Regions from separate parts of the Homo sapiens genome. Here region 1 is linked to region 2. Evidence: fine-mapped expression QTL. Tissue or cell type: whole blood. Region 2 holds a variant in brackets; the other region holds the start of a gene. All regions are shown on one strand. Distances are from middle to middle.

The links. PIP is the estimated chance that this variant, and not a neighbour inherited with it, causes the effect.
Region 1: NOP56 starts here. The variant in region 2 is fine-mapped to the expression of NOP56 in whole blood (INTERVAL, PIP above 0.99).

What each region holds. Positions count from the first base shown.
Region 1 is chr20:2,648,597-2,657,491 of GRCh38, reverse strand. It overlaps NOP56 (NOP56 ribonucleoprotein), which reads right to left and starts at 4,860. Exons shown (of 12, transcript NM_006392.4): 1 at 4,829-4,860; 2 at 4,561-4,650; 3 at 4,099-4,213; 4 at 2,917-3,078; 5 at 2,545-2,743; 6 at 1,980-2,167; 7 at 1,746-1,897; 8 at 1,458-1,558; 9 at 943-1,091; 10 at 597-718; 11 at 274-411. The coding sequence starts at 4,831. MIR1292 (microRNA 1292) reads right to left here and starts at 4,715; the gene lies at 4,650-4,715. It overlaps SNORD110 (small nucleolar RNA, C/D box 110), which reads right to left and starts at 3,280; the gene lies at 3,206-3,280. It overlaps SNORA51 (small nucleolar RNA, H/ACA box 51), which reads right to left and starts at 2,425; the gene lies at 2,294-2,425. It also overlaps SNORD86, LOC105372505, SNORD56 and SNORD57. RefSeq lists enhancers at 1,515-2,032, 4,147-4,236 and a silencer at 4,737-5,376.
Region 2 is chr20:2,677,427-2,688,070 of GRCh38, reverse strand. The region is part of intron 2 of LOC105372507 (a long non-coding RNA gene); the gene reads left to right. Among named protein-coding and RNA genes, the nearest start is that of EBF4, 10 kb to the left of the region's middle. The variant G/T (reference allele first, on the strand shown) is at 5,185.

The DNA.
Region 1 (8,895 bases), 30 kb after region 2:
TACCCCAGGTTGAGGACTCCTGGGAGGCAGCCGAGGACAGAACACACATGCCCAGGGAACGGGTGTGAGCTACAACCAGCTCTCTGGGCTCTTGAGCAAGTTCAGCACCTATCTCCTTCCTATAGAATCAAGAGGTAGTTTTAGATGTTTCAGGTCCTTGTTTCAGTCCAAAAGCCTGGACTCAAGACCACAGCTTGATGCAGCATATCCTTTGTTCTGCTGTTGAAAATCCTACAACCTAGGATCTCTGCCAGGGCCGTGCTGCCTACTGACCTCACACTCCTCTGGAGTACTACTGCTGTTTTCTGAAGACGCGAGGGCAAGTGCAGCCAGCCGTTTCTTTTCCTTCTTTAAGCGTTTCTTCTCCTGTTTCTCCAGCTTCCTAGTAATCTCAGCAGCCGCTTCCTCTGCCTGGTCAAAGAAAAGTGCTAAAAGGGCCTGAAGACTTCTGGTGCTCTGAGGACTCCTTTCTGGCTTTATTGGATCAGGCTCATTAAATCAGTTTTTTTGCCTCCATTCTACAAGGTCAGGCTCAGACAGTTCATCACCTCCAACAGCTAGCTATGCCACTCCACACCCAGCAAAGCCCAACTGACCTGAACCATTGCTTCCTTCATGACATCCAGATTCTTTCGTGGTATCTCTCCAGTCTCATAGAAGGACAGTCGCTCTTCAACTTGTTCTCGAAGCTTCTCCCCGAATACACTCGTGGGCACCTCTGGATGTGTGTGGGTGACAAAGCCTGTCAGCCCAAAGAGAGAAACTACCCCAACCCTGTGTTCCCTCTACCCTCAGCTTCACTCAGACCCAGAGTCTCAACACTCACTAGGTGAACTGCTGTTGACGAAAAATATTGCCATCATTGTGGAAGCTATGGTTGCAAGCCTCCCCACCCAGCCACCCAGCCCCTTCTCACACCTGCCAACGCCCCCCCACCCATACCAGAGAAGCAATCGATTCGTGAGGCAATACTGCATTTGTTTGCCAGGTATCGGGAGATGCGGCCTTTGTTCTTGGCAGCTGCTCGGCCAATGAAGGTGGAGTGGAAAATGAGTCCATATTTTGGAGTGTTACCCCTTGTCTTCAGGGCTCTGAGAGAATATTCAGTGGAGAGTTTAAGATCAGAAATTTCAACCCCATTAGCCAAGGCAGCTCAGCTCCTCCCCTCCTCTCACCCCGAAGTCCTGAGTGAGCCTCAGGCCAGATTGGATCTCTACCCCAATGCATGCCAACCCATAGCTCCCAGAGGCAGAGGGAAGGCATCCAATGTCGCTGACCTGGAAACTTGGTCCCTTTGCTGGGCCCTGGGAATCACTCAGACACCAGGACTGGCCATCACCCCCATAGCAGAGGCCTGTATAGGTCAGGGAGCCCTGGTCAGCCATCACCGTGATCCCCCAACAAGCAGTGGGCACCAGAAGTGGCACCTGATTGTGGGCAGGTGCCCTCACTGGTACCTGAACAGGGCCTTTTCAGCCCCAAGGATCTGCACTGTGGATGCTGGATACTTGGCCAGGTTGGTGAGGCTGCCAGCATGTGCGATGAGACGTGCACCTACCTGGAGAGAGAGTCAAGGAAGCAGTCAGAGAAATGAACTGCTGACCTGCCCAGTTGCACGACAGCCCTGCTCCCCACCTCCCCATCAAGCACAACTAGGGAAGACATGGTGGGTCACGAAATACAGCAGTGCAGGTGCACATGGCAACAGTCCTTATTCTCCCATTTTTGAGTCCCCTGTGACGCACCGCTTCCCCAATTAGGGCTGACAGGCTGGGGGCTACTTGGCTCATCTTGGAGCGCAGGTAAGTGTGTAGGCTCTGGCGGTATTCAGATAAAGACACCACACGACTGGAGAAGCTCTCGATGTTTATCAAGTCAATGGCAGATATGTCCATGCCTAGGAAAAACCAAGTGTGAATGCAAGAGGCCAGCTATTTAGAGCCCCATACCTTATGCAGGTTGCCAGGCTCTGCACTGACCCATGGAGGACCGTGAGGCATCCAGAATAGCCTTAGCCTTGGCCCCATCCATTGTCAGCTCCTCCAGCTTCTCCAGCTTGTCCTCATTCAGTTCCCTTCGGTTTCCAATAAACTGGGCAAGACGGCAGTATGTGGCATTGTCGTTGATGATCTTCACCAGCTCCGGAAAGTGATACCCGTACCACTCCCTGCAAAGAGCCACAGTCACTCCCTGGCCCAGCTGCTTCATCAAAAACCATAGAGCTACAGCCTTGCCTTCTCCACACCTACTCTGCCTGGAGGAAATGGGACAAAGATCCAAATCTTCCTCAATTCTATGTTCCCCCATTCACAATACAGACCAGGCACAGGGCCTGAGCTGAGGTGTATATGGGGTAGGTTTACTCTACCTCCTCTTTCTATACAGTCAGTGTAAGAACACAGCCTGTGGTAAGCACCAGGAGGCCTACACCCAGCCCCAGCCCACATGGTTCTACCCACAGGATGGTCAGTCCTCATCAAGACTCAAAATTAACTGAACTACAGACCAAAGGCTCCAGTATTATGGGTGGCCCCTGCACTTTACCTGACACGCATAGAGAAGGTATTGATGTCCTTATCCAGCTGGTCCAGGAGGCTAATGGACTGGATGATCATATTGTCCACCCGGTTCACATTAAACTTAACTTTGGCACGGGAATAGCTGTGTCCCAGCCCCAGCTGTGCTTTACAAGCTGACAGATCGGTCAGACCCTTCACCAGATTGTGGAAGTGCAGACGAACTCCTAAGAAGAGGGCAAGACGGTGAGCAACAAGGGGCTCTGAGCTAGCTCCCGCACCCACGGGCACCAGCCCAGCCTGAAGGCCTTCCCAGAAATCACAACAAGCAACCAAGTTTCCAGAACCTCCTCCCCCAAAATGTCCAGGATAACAGGAATATAACAGATGATGGTCTCACCTCGCAGGATCTCAGCTATGACTCCTCCAGTCTGGCAGTTGTACCCTAACTCCTCCTGTATTGCGGCACCAATCTTGGGATCCCCAACTCCCAAGAGTACTTTCTTCTTTTTGGACGGCAGGTGGGTCTCCAAGAGCAGGCGGAGGTCCTCATGAACAACCCCTCAGGGGAAAGAACACAGTTCCCACTAACAGGCTGAAGGACGATCAACTCTAACATCCCTCAGCTGACTACCCTGGTCCCACCGAGCACGCTGGGATGGCATACCTAGATCCCTCCCCATCAGGCATTGCTCAGAGACATGGAGACATCAGTGATTGCACTCAGGGGATTGACAGATTTGATTCGCAAGTCATCACTGCAAAGCCTGGCCCAGCCATGGGAACAACTGCATTCAGGTCTGATAGCACAAGTGGGCAATAAATAATAGCTTGTAACACACCCTCGAGTATTTCGTAGAATTTGCCTTCTGGAACCAAACCTTTTTTTCTCAGCCTGTGTTTACCCAACTGCCCTTTCCAATCGAACAGAAAGCAGAGAACCAGACACTTGATTGTGTTTAGGCAAAACCTCAGGCACAAGTAGGTGTTAAGCCGACCCCCTTTAAGAAACCCCCCTTTGTCGGCCGGGCACCGTCGCTCGCGCCTGCAACCTCAGCACCTTGGGAGGTCGAGGCGGGCGGATCACGAGGTCAGGAGATGGAGACTAGCCTGGCCAACATGGTGAAACCCCGTCTCTACCAAAAATACAAAATTAGCCGGGTGTGGTGGCTGGCACAGGCCTGTAATCCCAGTTACTCGGGAGGCTGAGGCAGGAGAATCGCCTGAACCAGGGAGGCAGAGGTTGCAGTGAGCCCAGATCTTGCCACTGCACTCCAGCCTGGGGGACAGACTCCATCTCAAAAAAAATAAAAATAAAAAATAGTTTGTCACTACAGTGCCCACAAGGAAACGTTAACACACATTCCACATCGTCTGCTTAAACAGTTTGGTCTAGCACAGTTCCCAGACCTTGAGCTCTGTGAAGACAATTATTTCAAATTACACATTGTATGGCTCAAATACTGCCTCACGCCTATCAGACTCAGAGCCAGCCAAGGACGGCAAATACTATCACAAGCTGCCCGAGAGGATACCGAAAGGAACCACATCTCTCTGTGACACTTGGCGGTGGCCGACTTACCTTCAGACACGGCGTTGGCATTTTCCAAGGCAACCTGGGATGAGGCAAAGGGACAAAAGGCCACCAGACGAACGATGCTGTGGAATTTGCCCAGGTTGAGCACAGACTCCTCCACCTGGGGGGAGAAAGAGGCTAAGTGGTTTCCTTCCCTCCCTCCTGCCTCTGCGGCGCAGTCAAGCAGCGGTTCTCAGCCTTGGAAGCTCTTAAAATATGCTGATACCTGGGCCCCACATCCCAGCTTCTGCTTTAATCGTTCGGGGGCGGCGTCCGGGAGGCTTATTTCTAATTGCTAGAGCGATTCTACCCATGGGTCAAGGTAAAGACCCCCGGATCTAGAGCTTTCCAGGCCCGTCCCCCCGCCCCGAACCGCTCGGCCGGCCACGTGGGAGCGCGCTGTGCATGCTGGGACCCGCGCGATGAGGGTCTGCGGGGCCGCCAAAGGAGCCCACGGATCTCACCCACCTGCGGCTGCAGCAGACTGATCTCCTCCACTTCCTTCAGCGCCAGCAGCGCGTAGCCGACCGCGTGCTCAAACAGCACGTGCAACAGCACCTGGAACGGGAGCCGGGGCGCGAGCGTCAACGCAACCTCAGCGTCTGCCGGAACCCGTTCCCAGGGCAGGCGCAGGCGCAGGCGCAGGCCCAGGCCCAGGCCCAGGCCCTGTCTGCGGCCCGAACGCAGGCCGAAACCCCCACCGTCGCGTCGCCCGCGCCCCGCAACCACTCCTCACCATGGCGCCAGCTCCCGGGTTCGGCTCGCAATGCGGCTAGCGCGCTCCGGCGCGCGGAACCAGGCTCCAGAGGCCACGCCCCCGCCCCCCCGACCAATCGGAGGCCGGGGACGACACCATCTCCGGCCTTTGGAGGGGCCGCCCAGGGTGGTATCGCCCGGAGCGCGGGCTGGGTGGTGCCGAGCGCGGGCGAGCGGGCCTTTTCCGGCCTCTGCAGCTGCGCGGGCGGGCGTGGTTGCCGGGGACGCGCGGCCCCCGGTCGGGCACTGCAGGCGGCGAAACGACTTGGGAAGGCCCTTTCGGGGTAATAGTCCGGTTCCTGATGTTCTTGTCATATGAGTTACGGGCAGCAGAGCTGGGTGAAGTCGGGGCGGGAGGTCCGCGTGGGGCGCGGCGTCCATCCCAGACAGAGACCGCTGCCTAGCCGGCTTCCCGCTTCGTCCGTGGCCTCGGGCCCCAGACCCTGCGCCCCACGTCCCCGGGACCCAGGCGTTCCCGTCCCCTACTCGGGGACGAGCCTCCCCGGCGCCGGGTGGGCGGTGCATCCTTTCCTCCCACCCGTAACGGGAGCGGTGCCTGGCGCGCTCTGGCGCAGACCCTGCTGGGAATGTAGCTCGCGCAGTTTTCTTCGTACTATTAATTTATTTCTTTTTTTTGTTTTTGGTTTTTTTTTTTTAAATGACTGTAGCAGGCAGTAACGTGCGAAAGAAAGACGCTCCAGCGTCTTCCTAGGCCAGTTTCTTGTTGCTGTGCTGCACGGGACCCAGCTCCTTTTGCTGGGCCACGTGTTGCTCCTCCGCTTGGGCGGCCCTGAATTCTGGGCGCTGGTGATCGCTGAGTGAATCGCAGCTGCTTCCCTGTCCTTGAGGGCGTCTTTTGGGCACTCAGGCGACTCTTTAGAAATGAGTTTTGCTTTAATAATTAATATTAACGTTATAAATCCAAAACCTAGTTATACTTAAGTAGCGTATCCCCTGGTATGTTTTAAAGAGTCATTCGAAGGGGATTTTTAAAAATAATGTATAGCTATAAACTGCATTTATACATTTAATTGTTATTTTGTTAAGCGATTGAGTTACTTGACAAAATCCAAGTACATAGTTCACTCACAAATCTAATATGTCAAACCTAAATGTGGTTGGTAAATCTTACTCTCATAATTTCAATATGGTTTACAGATGTGGTTGAATTCTGTTACACATGTCTACTTACGAGTCAGAATCGTTATTCCATTTAATATTTTAAAATGGAATTGCCAAGTTAATCCATACATTAGCATGTTAAATTATTTTAACCGTCGTGAATACATCAAAATAGACGATTCCAAAATGTAATGGAAAATACTAATGCTAATACTTCAATTTACTTCATTATTTCTGCCCTTAATCCTGAATCTTCCTGGAGTTACAGGTGCTTATCCACTAAACCAGGGGTTTTCAAGCAAGAAGTCAGAATGCATTAATGGACAGCATTTAAAAAAATAGGATTGGGTGGGCTATAATCCAGCACTTTAGGAGGCCGAGGCAGGCGGATCACTTAAGATCAGGAGTTCGAGACCAGCCTGGCCAACATGGTGAAACCCCGTCTCTACCAAAAAATAAAAAAATTAGCTGGACGTGGTGGAGCATGTCTGTAATCCCAGCTACTCGGGAGGCTGAGGAAGGAGAATCGCTTGAACCCGGGAGGCAGAGGCTGCACTCTAGCCTGGGCAACAGAGCAAGGCTCTGTCAAAAAAAAAAAAAAAAAAAAAAAAAAGAAAAAGGATTAAAGCGAATAGAAATAAGAGTGTGTTGCTTAGAGTAAGGTGCTGTTCATTGTAAAACTTTTGTCTCAGCTCTACATACATATATAGAAATATGTACACAAATATTTTTCATATATACATATATATGTAACTATATGAACACACTTTTGTGTGTTAAATCAGAATATAAAAAACCTGAGGGTCAATCAATGAGCCAAAAGGTAACCAGTCGTACTCTGGAAAAATTTGGGTCCTCTGGTTACAAAGGAGCTGTCATGAAGTAGTTTGCTGACTTACAGAGATGGCTGAAGAAAAGTGCTTCTGCTGGTGAGATAACCAATGCTTGTGATCAGATATGGATGTGGTATGAACATTAAAAGGTTTCCTTCGGTTTTCTCATCTCCATCCCTTCAATAAAATATCTCACCCTGATACTTGTAGTCTGACTCTAGTGGGATAACACAGGACTCCTGTTATCCTTGACACTGTTATCCAGTTATCCAGGGGGCATCTCTGCAACCTGTGGTGGAGTAGACCATCTTTGCCTTCCGCTTGGACTGTTTGCTGGGTGCACTGCTCCTGTCTAGGCTCAGGTCTTCACCACCAAAGTAGACTTTTTACAAAACCTTTGGTTTCCCCTTCAAGGCACTTTCTACTGCCAGAATGATCTTTCTAAGGCAGAATATCCAACCAGGTGCAATTTGTGGGTGCTTACAGGGTCATGAAATACCACCTATGGTAGTTAGTTTCCACAAATGGCCAAGATAGACGTGTGGGTGAAGCCATCCTGTGTGTCCCAGCCCCTGTCACCATCTCAGTGCAGCCATGTAAGGCCCCAAACAAGACCAGCAGAACCACCATCTGCATCTTGTCTACCCTGATTGTGACAAATAGTACATTGCGGTTTTCAGCCACTAAATGTAAGGGTGAGTTGTTAAGCAGCAGTAAATTTGAATCGGTCAGCTCACGTGGGTTCAAGCCCCAGCTCTGCCAGTACTTACAATGTGATCTTAATCACTGAATCTTCCTGAGCTTTCATTTCCTTTGCAGAATGAAGGTTGGGGTTTCATTCATCCCTTTAACAAACATTTATTGAAGATCTCCTGTGGGCCAGGTGTGACAATGGTGTACCTGGCATGTAGTGGGAGCTCAAAAAATATTAGTGGTCTTTCATCTTGCTCTTTTGTCCTTTAATTAATAAATAGCACAACAAAATGTTTTATCACCTATTTTCAGTTGAGTCTCAGTTCTCTGCAGTTATCACCTTGCATAGAAGCTACTGAAACCTCATTTTTTTCTTTTTTGGGACAGGGTCTCCTGTAGCCCAGGTTGGAATGCAGTGGCACAATCTTTGCTCATTGCAACCTTGATTTCCTGGGCTCAAGTGATCATCCTGCCTCAGCCTCCCAAGTAGCTGGGACTACTGGTGTACACCCCCATGCCTGACTAATTTTTTTGTAGAGATAGGGTTTTGCCATGTTGCCCAGGCTGATCTCAAACTCCTGGGCTTGAGCTATCCTGCTCTCCTCTGCCTCCCCAAATGCTGGGATTACAGGTGTGTGCCACCACACCCAGCTAATTTTTGTATTATTGGTAGAGACGGGGTTTTACCATGTTGGCCAGGCTGGTCTCGAACTCCTGACCTCAGGTGATCCACCTGCCTCGGTCTCTCAAAGTATCGGGATTACAGGTGTGAGCCACTGTGCCTGGCCAGGATCTTATTTTTTATGGCTGAATAGTACTCCATTGTGTATACATACCACGTTTTCTTTTCTTTTTTTTTTTGAGATGGAGTCTCGCTCTGTTGCCCAGGCTGGAGTGCAGTGGCGTGATCTCGGCTCACTGCAAGCTCCACTTCCTGGTTCAGCCTTCTGAGTAGCTGGGATTACAGGCGTCTGGCACCACACCTGGCTAATTTTTGTATTTTTATTTTATTTTATTTTATTTTATTATTATTATTATTATTATTATTATTATTATTATTATTATTTGAGACGGAGTCTCGCCCTGTCGCCCAGGCTGGAGTGCAGTGGCGCAATCTTGGCTCACTGCAAGCTCCGCCTCCCAGGTTCACGCCATTCTCCTGCCTCAGCCTCCCGAGTAGCTGAGACTACAGGCGACCGCCACCGCATCCGGCTAATTTTTTGTATTTTTAGTAGAGATGGGGTTTCTCCGTGTTAGCCAGGATGGTCTCAATCTCCTGACCTTGTGATCCGCCCGCCTTGGCCTCCCTAAGTGTTGGGATTACAGGCGTGAGCCACCACGTCTGGCTAATTTTTGCATTTTTAGTAGAGAGAGGTTTCACCATGTTGGCCAGGCTGGT
Region 2 (10,644 bases):
GCGCGCATTAATTATGGCAATTCTCATAGTTCCATGAAGAAATCCAGAATGACAAGGGCCATCCAAGAAGGTGGTCTGGTAGGTATGCGCCAGCTCTGGGCCTTCCTCGCTGTTGATTCCTGAGGCCTCTTCAATTGCTTCAAGAAAACCCCACACCACAAGTATTAGTCTTGCCTTAGGATCCATTCCATCCCACATCTAGGCCCAGTTATTCAATCTTGAATAATAAAACAATAGGAGCTATCGTGGTGGACCCTTTGGCAGGAGAGTCGAGCTCCTATCCCCAGGCTCTGGGATCATTGGTCCTGGTTGTTCACACACCTGCCAATCACAAACCACTTCAAAGACACCCGGTCTCAATGCCCATTGAGGAAGAGGAAGGGGACCGTTTTCCCAGTGCAGCAAGCTATGCCCACTCCCTGCTATTTTGCAGAGCACGGCTGTTCCCTGCAGTCTCAAACCTAAAACTGCAGCAGCACCCAACACTATCCCTGACGGCTGCCCCTTAGCTACTCATAGGCAATGGCAACAATTTTGAAATATTATATACACACACACACACACACATATATATATATATTTACCGGTGGGGCAAGATCAAATTCATTTTCAAATTGTTGGGGAGGGCCAGGCGCGGTGGCTCACGCCTGTAATCCCAGCACTTTGGGAGGCCAAGGAGGGTGGATCATTTGAGGCCAGGAGATCGAGACCAGCCCAGCCAACATGGCAAAAACCCGCTTCTACTGAAAAAAACAAACAAAATGAAACAAAAACAATACAAAGAAAACAAAAATTATCCGGGTGCAGTGGCATGTGCCTCTAGTCCCAGCAACACAGGAGGCAGGGGCTCAGAACTACTATAGAGTACTTGAAATAAATAAGTAAAAGCTCAGCGCAGTTAAATTCCAAGTACATGGGGAGCAAACCTGAGTTCAAGTTACTTGGTTTAAATCAATGTCTCGCCACTGGCGTAAATTGAACTTCAGTACTATGGCTACATTGTCTTCATTCTCACTTGACCCAACATCCGGTTGGCAGTAGGTGCGTTTATTCTAGATCACGTTTGAGTCTCTTTTTTTTTTTTTTTTTTGAGATGGAGTCTCGCTCCCGTCGCGCAGGCTGGAGTGCAGTGGCACGAGCTAGGGTCACTGCAACCTCCACCTCCCGGGTTCAAGTGATTCTCCTTCCTCAGCCTCCCGAGTAGCTGGGATTATAGGAGTGGGCCACCACGCCTGGCTAATTTTTGTATTTTTAGTAGAGACGGGGTTTCGCCATGTTGGCCAGGCTGGTCCCCACCTTCTGACCTCAGGCGATCCACCCACCCTGGCCTCCCAAAGTGCTGGGATTACAGGCATGAGCCACCGCGCCTGCCTTGAGTTTCCTAAAATGCTGAACTTAAGTCAGAATCCCATCTCTGCCACTCACTGGATTTGTAAACTTATACTGAGCCTCAGTTTCCCATCAAATGAGAATGATAGCACACAGTTGTGAAGGTGAAATAAAATTAAACACGAGGAAAACAATTTTACAAACTTTTGAACACTATACCTGTGTAAGGTTGCTATTCTGGGCGTTCAGCACCTTGGGTTTTCCTGTGGAAGTGGGAAAGATATATAACTGTCTTTGTTGGAGACATTAAGCAGCTTATTTCATTTTCCAAATAGATACTAGGGACAAATATTTATACTTAAACTATTACATTAAAAGCAAAAAAGCAAGAGCATAATATTTAAAAAAAAAAAAAGCATGAGAAGTGCTTGAACCCAGGAGGAAGAGGCTGTTACAGTGAGCCAATCGTGCCACTGCACTCCAGCCTGCGCAACAGAATGAGACTGTCTCAAAAAACAAAAACAAAAACCCAAATTGCTGGGGAGGTAGGAGGAGGGTGGGGGAGTGGGGGTCTAGAAGAAAGGAAACTATTATCCTTGAGGTAGAGCAGGGTGCGGTAGGGGTAGGGGGTGAGGGGAATATAGGGTAGGCAGGAGGGAGCTATTTTTCCCCTTGTCCCGGGTGAAGTGGGGAGAGGACTTGGCAGAGGCTGATTCTCCATGAGGCTTAATCTTCAGGCTTTCATCTACACCGGCCCCTTCCAAGGACCCTCGAATATTCCTCGTGACAGGTTCACATGGTTACATATAATTGTGTATTCATAATTTTGTATTCTTCTTAAGGAGTTACTCCTCCAATTGTATAAGCTTCAGGTCTCCCAAAATCTAGATCTTCTGGTGGGACCTGGAGTTGGGTAGGAACAGTTCAGGTAAGAGATAATGAAGACCTAAACTAAAACAAGTTCAGTGGGGAGGGATGCGTTTCTTAATAGAAAAGTGCTATCATTTACTGGCCTGTAGCTCTTACAGATGAAGATGTTTGATTCTTTTCTTCTTTTCTGTATCCATAGTGCTGTGAATAGTCCTTGAAGGATAAATATTTGTGGATGAATACTTGTCTGGGAGGTAGAGGTCAGAAACTCATGATGGATTGCCTATGTGGGGTCCCACAGGGTGCCCCAAAGAGATGAGCTCCCAGCCGGGCGCGGTAGCTCATGCCTGTAATCCCACCACTTTGAGAGGCCAAGGCAGGTGGATCACCTGAGGTCAGCCTGGCCAACATGGTGAAACCCTGTTTCTACTAAAAATACAAAAAATTAGCTGGGTGTGGTGGCACGCACCTGTAGTTCCAGCTACTCAGGAGGCTGAGGCAGGAGAATTGCTTGAACCTGGGAAGTGAAAGTTGCAGTGAGCCCATATTGCGCCACTGCACTATAGCCTGGGTGACAGAGCGAGACTCTGTCTTAAAAAATAAAAATAAAAAGAGCCCCCCACACCTATCCCTTGTCACCTATCCCTACTCTGCTGTGTCACCCAGGCCTATTCCTGGTGTTGGGGAGAGAGGTCTTAAGCTCTCTCTTTCCTTAACCTTCAATGGCTGCTTGGCCTGGGGGAGCGAGGTCCTTGGAATGTGCCATGTGGTGGAAAGAACACCGGACTTGGGGTCTGGAGACCTGAACTCAGTAGGCAAGTTACTGACTTATTCTCAGCTGTAGTTACTTCATGGATAAGCCTGAGGTGCTGGTGGCCAAGTGATGCAACCGTAAGTGGTTAACAGCTTCCTCTTTTTTTTTTTTTTATTATACTTTAAGTTCTAGGGTACATGTGCACAACGTGCAGGTTTGTTACATATGTATACATGTGCCATGTTGGTGTGCTGCACCCATGAACTTGTCATTTACATTAGGTATATCTCCTAATGCTATCCCTCCCCCCACCCCACAACAGGCCCCGGGGTGTGATGTTCCCCTTCCTGTGTCCATGTGTTCTCATTGTTCAATTTCCACCTATGAGTGAGAACATGTGGTGTTTGGTTTTTTGTCCTTGCGATAGTTTGCTGAGAATGATGGTTTCCAGCTTCATCCATGTCCCTACAAAGGACATGAACTCATCATTTTTTTATGGCTGCATAGTATTCCATAGTGTATATATGCCACATTTTCTTAATCCAGTCTGTCATTGTTGGACATTTGGGTTGGTTCCAAGTCTTTGCTGTTGTGAATAGTGCCGCAATAAACATACCCATGCATATGTCTTTATAGCAGCATGATTTATATTCCTTTGGGTATATACCCAGTAATAGAATTGCTGGGTCAAATGGTATTTCTAGTTCTAGATCCCTGAGGAATTGCCACACTGACTTCCACAATGGTCGAACTAGTTGACAGTCCCACCAACAGTGTAAAAGTGTTCCTATTTCTCCACATCCTCTCCAGCATCTGTTGTTTCCTGACTTTTTAATGATTGCCATTCTAACTGGTGTGAGATAGTATCTCATTGTGGTTTTGATTTGCATTTCTCTAATGACCAGTGATGATGGGCATTTTTTCATGTGTCTGTTGGCTGCATAAATGTCTTCTTTTGAGAAGTGTCTGTTCATATCCTTTGCCCACTTTTTGATGGGGTTGTTTGTTTTTTTCTTGTAAATTTGTTGGAGTTCTTTGTAGATTCTGGATATTAGCCCTTTGTCAGATGAGTAGATTGCAAAAATCTTCTCCCATTCTGTAGGTTGCCTGTTCACTCTGATGGTAGTTTCTTTTGCTGTGCAGAAGCTCTTTAGTTTAATTAGATCCCAGTTGTCAATTTTGGCTTTTGTTGCCATTGCTTTTGATGTTTTAGACATGAAGTCCTTGCCCATGCCTATGTCCTGAATGGTATTGCCTAGGTTTTCTTCTAGGGTTTTTATGGTTTTAGGTCTAACATTTAAGTCTTTAATCCATCTTAAATTAATTTTTGTATAAGGTATAAGGAAGGGGTCCAGTTTCAGCTTTCTACCTATGGCTAGCCAGTTTTCCTAGCACCATTTATTAAATAGGGAATCCTTTCCCCATTTCTTGTTTTTGTCAGGTTTGTCAAAGATCAGATAGTTGTAGATGTGTGGCATTATTTCTGAGGGCTCTGTTCTGTTCCATTGGTCTATATCTCTGTTTTGGTACCAAATCAATAAACATAATCCAGCATATAAACAGAACCAACGACAAAACCACATGATTATCTGAATAGATGCAGAAAAGGCTTTTGACAAAATTCAACAACTCTTCATGCTAAAAACTCTCAATAAATTAGGTATTGATGGGACGTATCTCAAAATAATGAGCTATTTATGACAAACCCACAGCCAATATCATACTGAATGGACAAAAACTGGAAGCATTCCCTCTGAAAACTGGCACAAGACAGGGATGCCCTCTCTCACCACTCCTATTCAACATAGTATTGGAAGTTCTGGCCAGGGCAATCAGGCAGGAGAAGGAAATAAACGGTATTCAATTAGGAAAAGAGGAAGTCAAATTGTCCCTGTTTGCAGATGACATGATTGTATATCTAGAAAACCCCATCGTCTCAGCCCAAAATCTCCTTAAGCTGATAAGCAACTTCAGCAAAGTCTCAGGATACAAAATCAATGTGCAAAAATCACAAGCATTCTTATGCACCAATAAGAGACAAACAGAGCCAAATCATGAGTGAACTCCCATTCACTACTGCTTCAAAGAGAATAAAATACCTAGGAATCCAACTTACAAGAGATGTGAATGACCTCTTCAAGGAGAACTACAAACCACTGCTCAACGAAATAAAAGAGGATACAAACAAATGGAAGAACATTCCATGCTCATGGATAGGAAGAATCAATATC[G/T]TGAAAATGGCCATACTGCCCAAGGTAATTTATAGATTCAATGCCATCCCCATCAAGCTACCAATGACTTTCTTCACAGAATTGGAAAAAACTACTTTAAAGTTCATATGGAACCAAAAAAGAGCCTGCATTGCCAAGTCAATCTTAAGCCAAAAGAACAAAGCTGGAGGCATCACGCTACCTGACTTCAAACTATACTACAAGGCTACAGTAACCAAAACAGCGTGATACTGGTAACAGCCTCCTCTTAAAAAATAAACTTGCTTTGTAGCATTTGCTGAATTTGTGGTGACTACACATTCCTACCATGGCTGATTTCAAACTACTAATGTGATATCACTGAACATGTTAGGAGAGACACACCATAGCCTCTTCAGAGCCTGAGCAATCCGATTCCAGCACACTCCTGTGTGGGTCTCAAGGACTAGGGTCTTACTTTATTTGAACAAAATGTTGGATGACGGACTCCCATATTCTGTGCCAAGCTGTATATGGGAAATTCTGTCTTCTTCCTCTTCCTCTTCTTCTTCTTCTTCTTCTTCTTCTTCTTCTTCTTCTTCTTCTTCTTCTTCTTCTTCTTCCTCTTCTTCCTCTTCTTCTTCCTCTTCTTCCTCTTCTTCTTCCTCTTCTTCTTCCTCTTCTTCTTCCTCTTCTTCTTCTTCCTCTTCCTCTTCTTCTTCTTCTTTTCTTCCCCTTCTTCTTCCCCTTCTTCTCCTTCTTCCCCTTCTTCCCCTTCATCCGCTTCTTCCCCTTCGTCCCCTTCTTCCCCTCTCTTCTTCTTTCTTCTTCTTCTCCTTCTCCTTCTCCCTTCTTCTCCCTTCTTTCTTCCTTTTTTTTTTTTCAAATGCAGAGTCTCACTCTGTTTGCCCAGACTGGAGTGCAGTGGCTCGATTTTGGCTCACTGCAGCCTGGACCTCTGGGCTCAAGCGATCCTCCTGCCTCAGCCTCCTGAGTAGCTTGGACTACAGGGGTGTACCATCACACCTGGCTGATTTTCTAAAAAAATTTTTATAGGCCAGGAGCGGTGGCTCATGCCTGTAATCCCAGCACTTTGGGAAGCCGAAGCAGGTGGATCCTCTGAGGTGAGGAGTTCAAGACCAGCCTGGCCAACATGGTGAAACCCTGTCTTTAAAAATACAAAAAAATTACCTGGGGTGGTGGTGGGCACCTGTAATCCCAGCTACTTGGGAGGCCGAGGCAGGAGAATCACTTGAACCTGGGAGGCGGAGGTTGCAGTGAACCAAGATCGCATAATTCTGCTCCAGCCTAGGCAACAAGAGCAAAACTCCATCTCGAAAAAAAAACAAAACAGTTTTTTTTGTAGTGACAGGGTCTTGCCAAGTTGCCCAAGTTGGTTTCAAGCTCGTGGGCTCAAATAATCCCCCTGCGCTGGCCTCCCAAAGTGCTGAGATTATAGGCATGAGCCATTGCAGCCAGCCCAGCTGTTCTTTTTGCTGGTAAGATCATTTTATGTGGGCAAGATGTATGTGGATGATCACTTTGGCCCAATATCCATCTTTGTTTTTAATTAAAAAATTATTTGCCTTTTTAAAATTATGACATAATTGACAGCAAAGTACCCAGATATTACATGCGCATGTTGGTAAATTTTTACACACATATACACCCATATAACCAACCATTCAGATTAAGATACAGGGCATTTTCAACATCCCCAAATCCTCTCTGGTGCCTACTCCCAGTGAACACTTGCCGCTCAAGAGGTAACCCCCTCCTGATTCCTTGCACCATAAACTAGTTTTTCTCATTCTTGAAGTTCATGTAAATGACATCATGCATTATGTAGTTTTTAAATATCTGGCTTTCACTCATCATTACCTGTGAGATTTATCCACGTTGTTGTGTATAAGAGTGTAATTCATTTGTTTTCATTCCTAGGTAGTATTCCTAGCACAAACTTTCAATAGTTTTAACTTTTTTTGTTGTTGTTGTTGTTGAGATGGAGTCTCGCTCTGTCGCCCAGGCTGGAGTGCAGTGGCGCGAACTCAGCTCACTGCAAGCTCCGCCTCCCAGGTTCACGGCAGTCTCCTCTCTCAGCCTCCTGAGTAAGTGGGACTACAGGCGCCCGCCACAATGTCTGGCTAATTTTTGTATTTTTAGGAGGGACGGGGTTTCACCATGTTAGCCAGGATGGTCTCGATCTCCTGACCTCGTGATCCACCCGCCTCGGCCTCCCAAAGTGCTGGGATTACAGGCGTGAGCCACCGCGCCCAGCCAGTTCTAACTTATTAAAACTTTTTTATGCTTCTCATGCCTGCTTTTGTCTCTCAACTCTGAAACTGTGGATCCCACTGGCCACATACTCAGTCCCATAATGCTCTATTTCTCCTTGGCCCTGACCTATCCTCTACCACTTCACCTCCAACATCTGCCATGCCCTTCAGAATCCCATCTGTAAGGCAGTGGCTTACAGATGCAAGCACTTCTGGAGGCCAAGGCAGGCAAATCGCTTGAGCTCAGGAGTTTTAGACCAGCCTGGCCAAATGGTGAAACTCTGTTGCTCCAACAAATTAGCCAGGCCTGGTGATACATGCCTGCAGTCCCAGCTACTCGGGAGGTTGAGGTCAAAAAAAAAAAAAAAAAAGAATCCCCTCTGCAAAATTAACCAACTTCCTCATATTTTCAACATTTCTTTTAAAACTTTCTCTCACCACCAGCCTTAACTGAAACCTGAATGACACCTGTTATGGAATGAATGTTTGTCTCCCTTAAATGCATATGTTGAAATCCTAACCCCCTAATTAACTGTATTTGGAGATAAAGGCTATGAGGAGGCCGGGCGTGGTGGCTTACACCTATAATCCCAACACTTTGGGAGGCTGAGGCGGGCAGATCATGAGGCCAGGAGATTGAGACCATCCTGGCTAACACAGTGAAACCCTGTCTCTACTATAAATACAAAAAATTAGCCGGGCGTGGTGGCGGGCACCTGTAGTCCCAGCTACTTAGGAGGCTGAGGCAGGAGAATCACTTGAACCTGGGAGGCGGAGGTTGCAGTGAGCCGAGATCACGCCACTGCACTCCAGCCTGGTGACAGAGCGAGACTGTCTCAAAAAAAAAAAAAAAAAAAAAAAAAAAAAAAAAAAAGGCTATGAGGAGGTGATAAAGGCTGAAATGATAAAGGTCATAAGGGTGGATCCCTATCCGATAGGTCTAGTGCCCTTATGTGAAGAGGAAGGGACACTAAAACTCTCAATCTCCACTATGTGAGGACACAATGAGAAAGTGACCATGTGCAAGCCAGGAAGACAGCCCTCACCAGGACCCAAATCAACTGGTACCTTGATCTGCGACTTCCCAGCCTCCAGAACTCTGAGAAAATAAATTTCTGTTGTTGAAGCCACCCAGTCTATGGCGTTTTGTGATGGTAACCTGAGCCAACTAAGACAACATCCAAGGATGCCTTTTTGCCTAAGGCATTCTCTAGCAGTTACTGTTTATTCTCTTTCACTTTGCTACATATAAATATCTTGGATTGTATTTTGCCCTCCTTTCAAGATAAGTTACTTTGTTACTGTTTCATGAATGCTGGCAGAAGACAGGAGATTCCTAGATTAGAGACAAAGCAAAGCATATTAACACAGCATAGCAAGTAGCAAAAGCACCCTGTTTGTATCAGCTCCCCTTGTTCCCTAAGTTCCACAAGGAAAATGGGAAGGAGCCTTATGGATTCTGTGCATGCACTGGGTTTGTGCCCCACGTGAGGAACATTGAGCCTGGGGAACCCCCTCTTTCATAGACAGCAGTAAGCAAGTCTGCTCTTTGTCCTGGAGAGAGATATTAACCTCATTCCTCAAGGTGGCTTACTGCAATGCACGACCCTGAGAAACAGCCCAGGAAAGAGGGGTCAGGGCCTTGTAGTCTTGGCATACTCAGTAAAAATGTGCTGGGACGTTCAGGGCCTCTGACAGCTTTCCTCTCCCAATAATTGACCTTACACATTCTTGGCCAAAGTGGAATATTCCCATGAGTATACCACTCCATCTGCCACTCCAATCAATCTGATCACCCTAGACTGGGACCAAATTTGCTCAATTTGTCTCATACAGAATTTACTACCAATAGAACCTCAAGCAAGATGAGGCCAACCAACAGTATTGGCTTCAACAATGCCACCCGGCGTCTCAGACTCAGTCACCTGTGAATAAGTCTCAAGGGGATCAGTAGGCCTTAGTAGGCCAGGATACAGTCTAAGGCCAGGTCATTATCCATTACAACCTGCATAAGTGAGTTCTAGACTAATCTACTGGTCCTCAATGTCATCGCCAGTAATTATATGAAGTGATAGATGGGCCAAAAGCAACCCTCATCCCTAATGGAGAGACATCACATGGCCCACATACAAACATACACCCAACAGGTTACGTGTTACTTGAATTCAGAATTTGTTGTTGATTCTGATTTGGATTATCATTACACTGGTTTGGTTTAGCCACATGGATGGTGTCACCTAACGCTTGCATCCTCAGACACCATACATGAACCAAAGCCACGTGGGTGACAGGAAAAGTGCCTGTGTTTGTACCAATCAGACAAACAAGGTTGTGCTGGATGGTGTGTTTGTGCATGTATGGGGTAAGGGGAGGTTCCATATTTGGGAGCTGCCATTGATGGCTGGCAAAGGCCACAACTGAATAGCCAGGACTGGCCACCTCCTTATGAATTCCCCTGTTTTCATAGCATGCAGGCAGCATGATAAATCCAGAAAGGGTAAGACTGTCAGCTGCAGCTGCTGCTCAACTCAGATGAACGAGATGATGGTTTTTCTAGGTTTCAATGCTGGATCTAGGGGACAAAGAGCACATTGATCATTCTCCACTGTTTGCACCTGCTGGCATCTAAGGTGTCTTCTCGCAGGCTTCCTGGCTATGAAAGCAGCATATCTCATTCCAGTAGCCATAACTTCATCATTTCTCCGATCTTTCCCTACTCATACCCAGACCTTTTGTCTGCTAGAGCGAGGCGTGAGTGAGACAAGGACATTTTTACAAAATTTACAGACATCCATTGTATCTCGCACCTTGGCCTATATGAGCCAGTGTGAGAGAACTTGGCAAGGAATGTACTCAACCAGTGTACTCAATTTGGCAAGCAATTGTATTCAATGAGTACACTGATCTGGGATCAGGTTAATCTGTCAAGAGAATCCAAGTGGCTAAACCAGAATTAGAGATAAGTTTGAATCCCCTAAGTCCCCTTTTGCCGGGCTGACACCTGGAGGGTGCACCAAGCAGGCTGGTGTGGGGTTGCTGTTGGGTTAGGGGTGGGAGAGGAAAGAAAAAAGAAGCACCATGCTCCCAACTTTTCAGAATAGATCTATATAACCCTCCACCTGTTTTCATCCTGATCAGTACCCAGGAAGTGGCTGAAAGGAGATGATCTTTGGAGATAGCTGCATTCAGTGATCATACTGCCTCGCTGAAGTATGTGGCCCAGAAG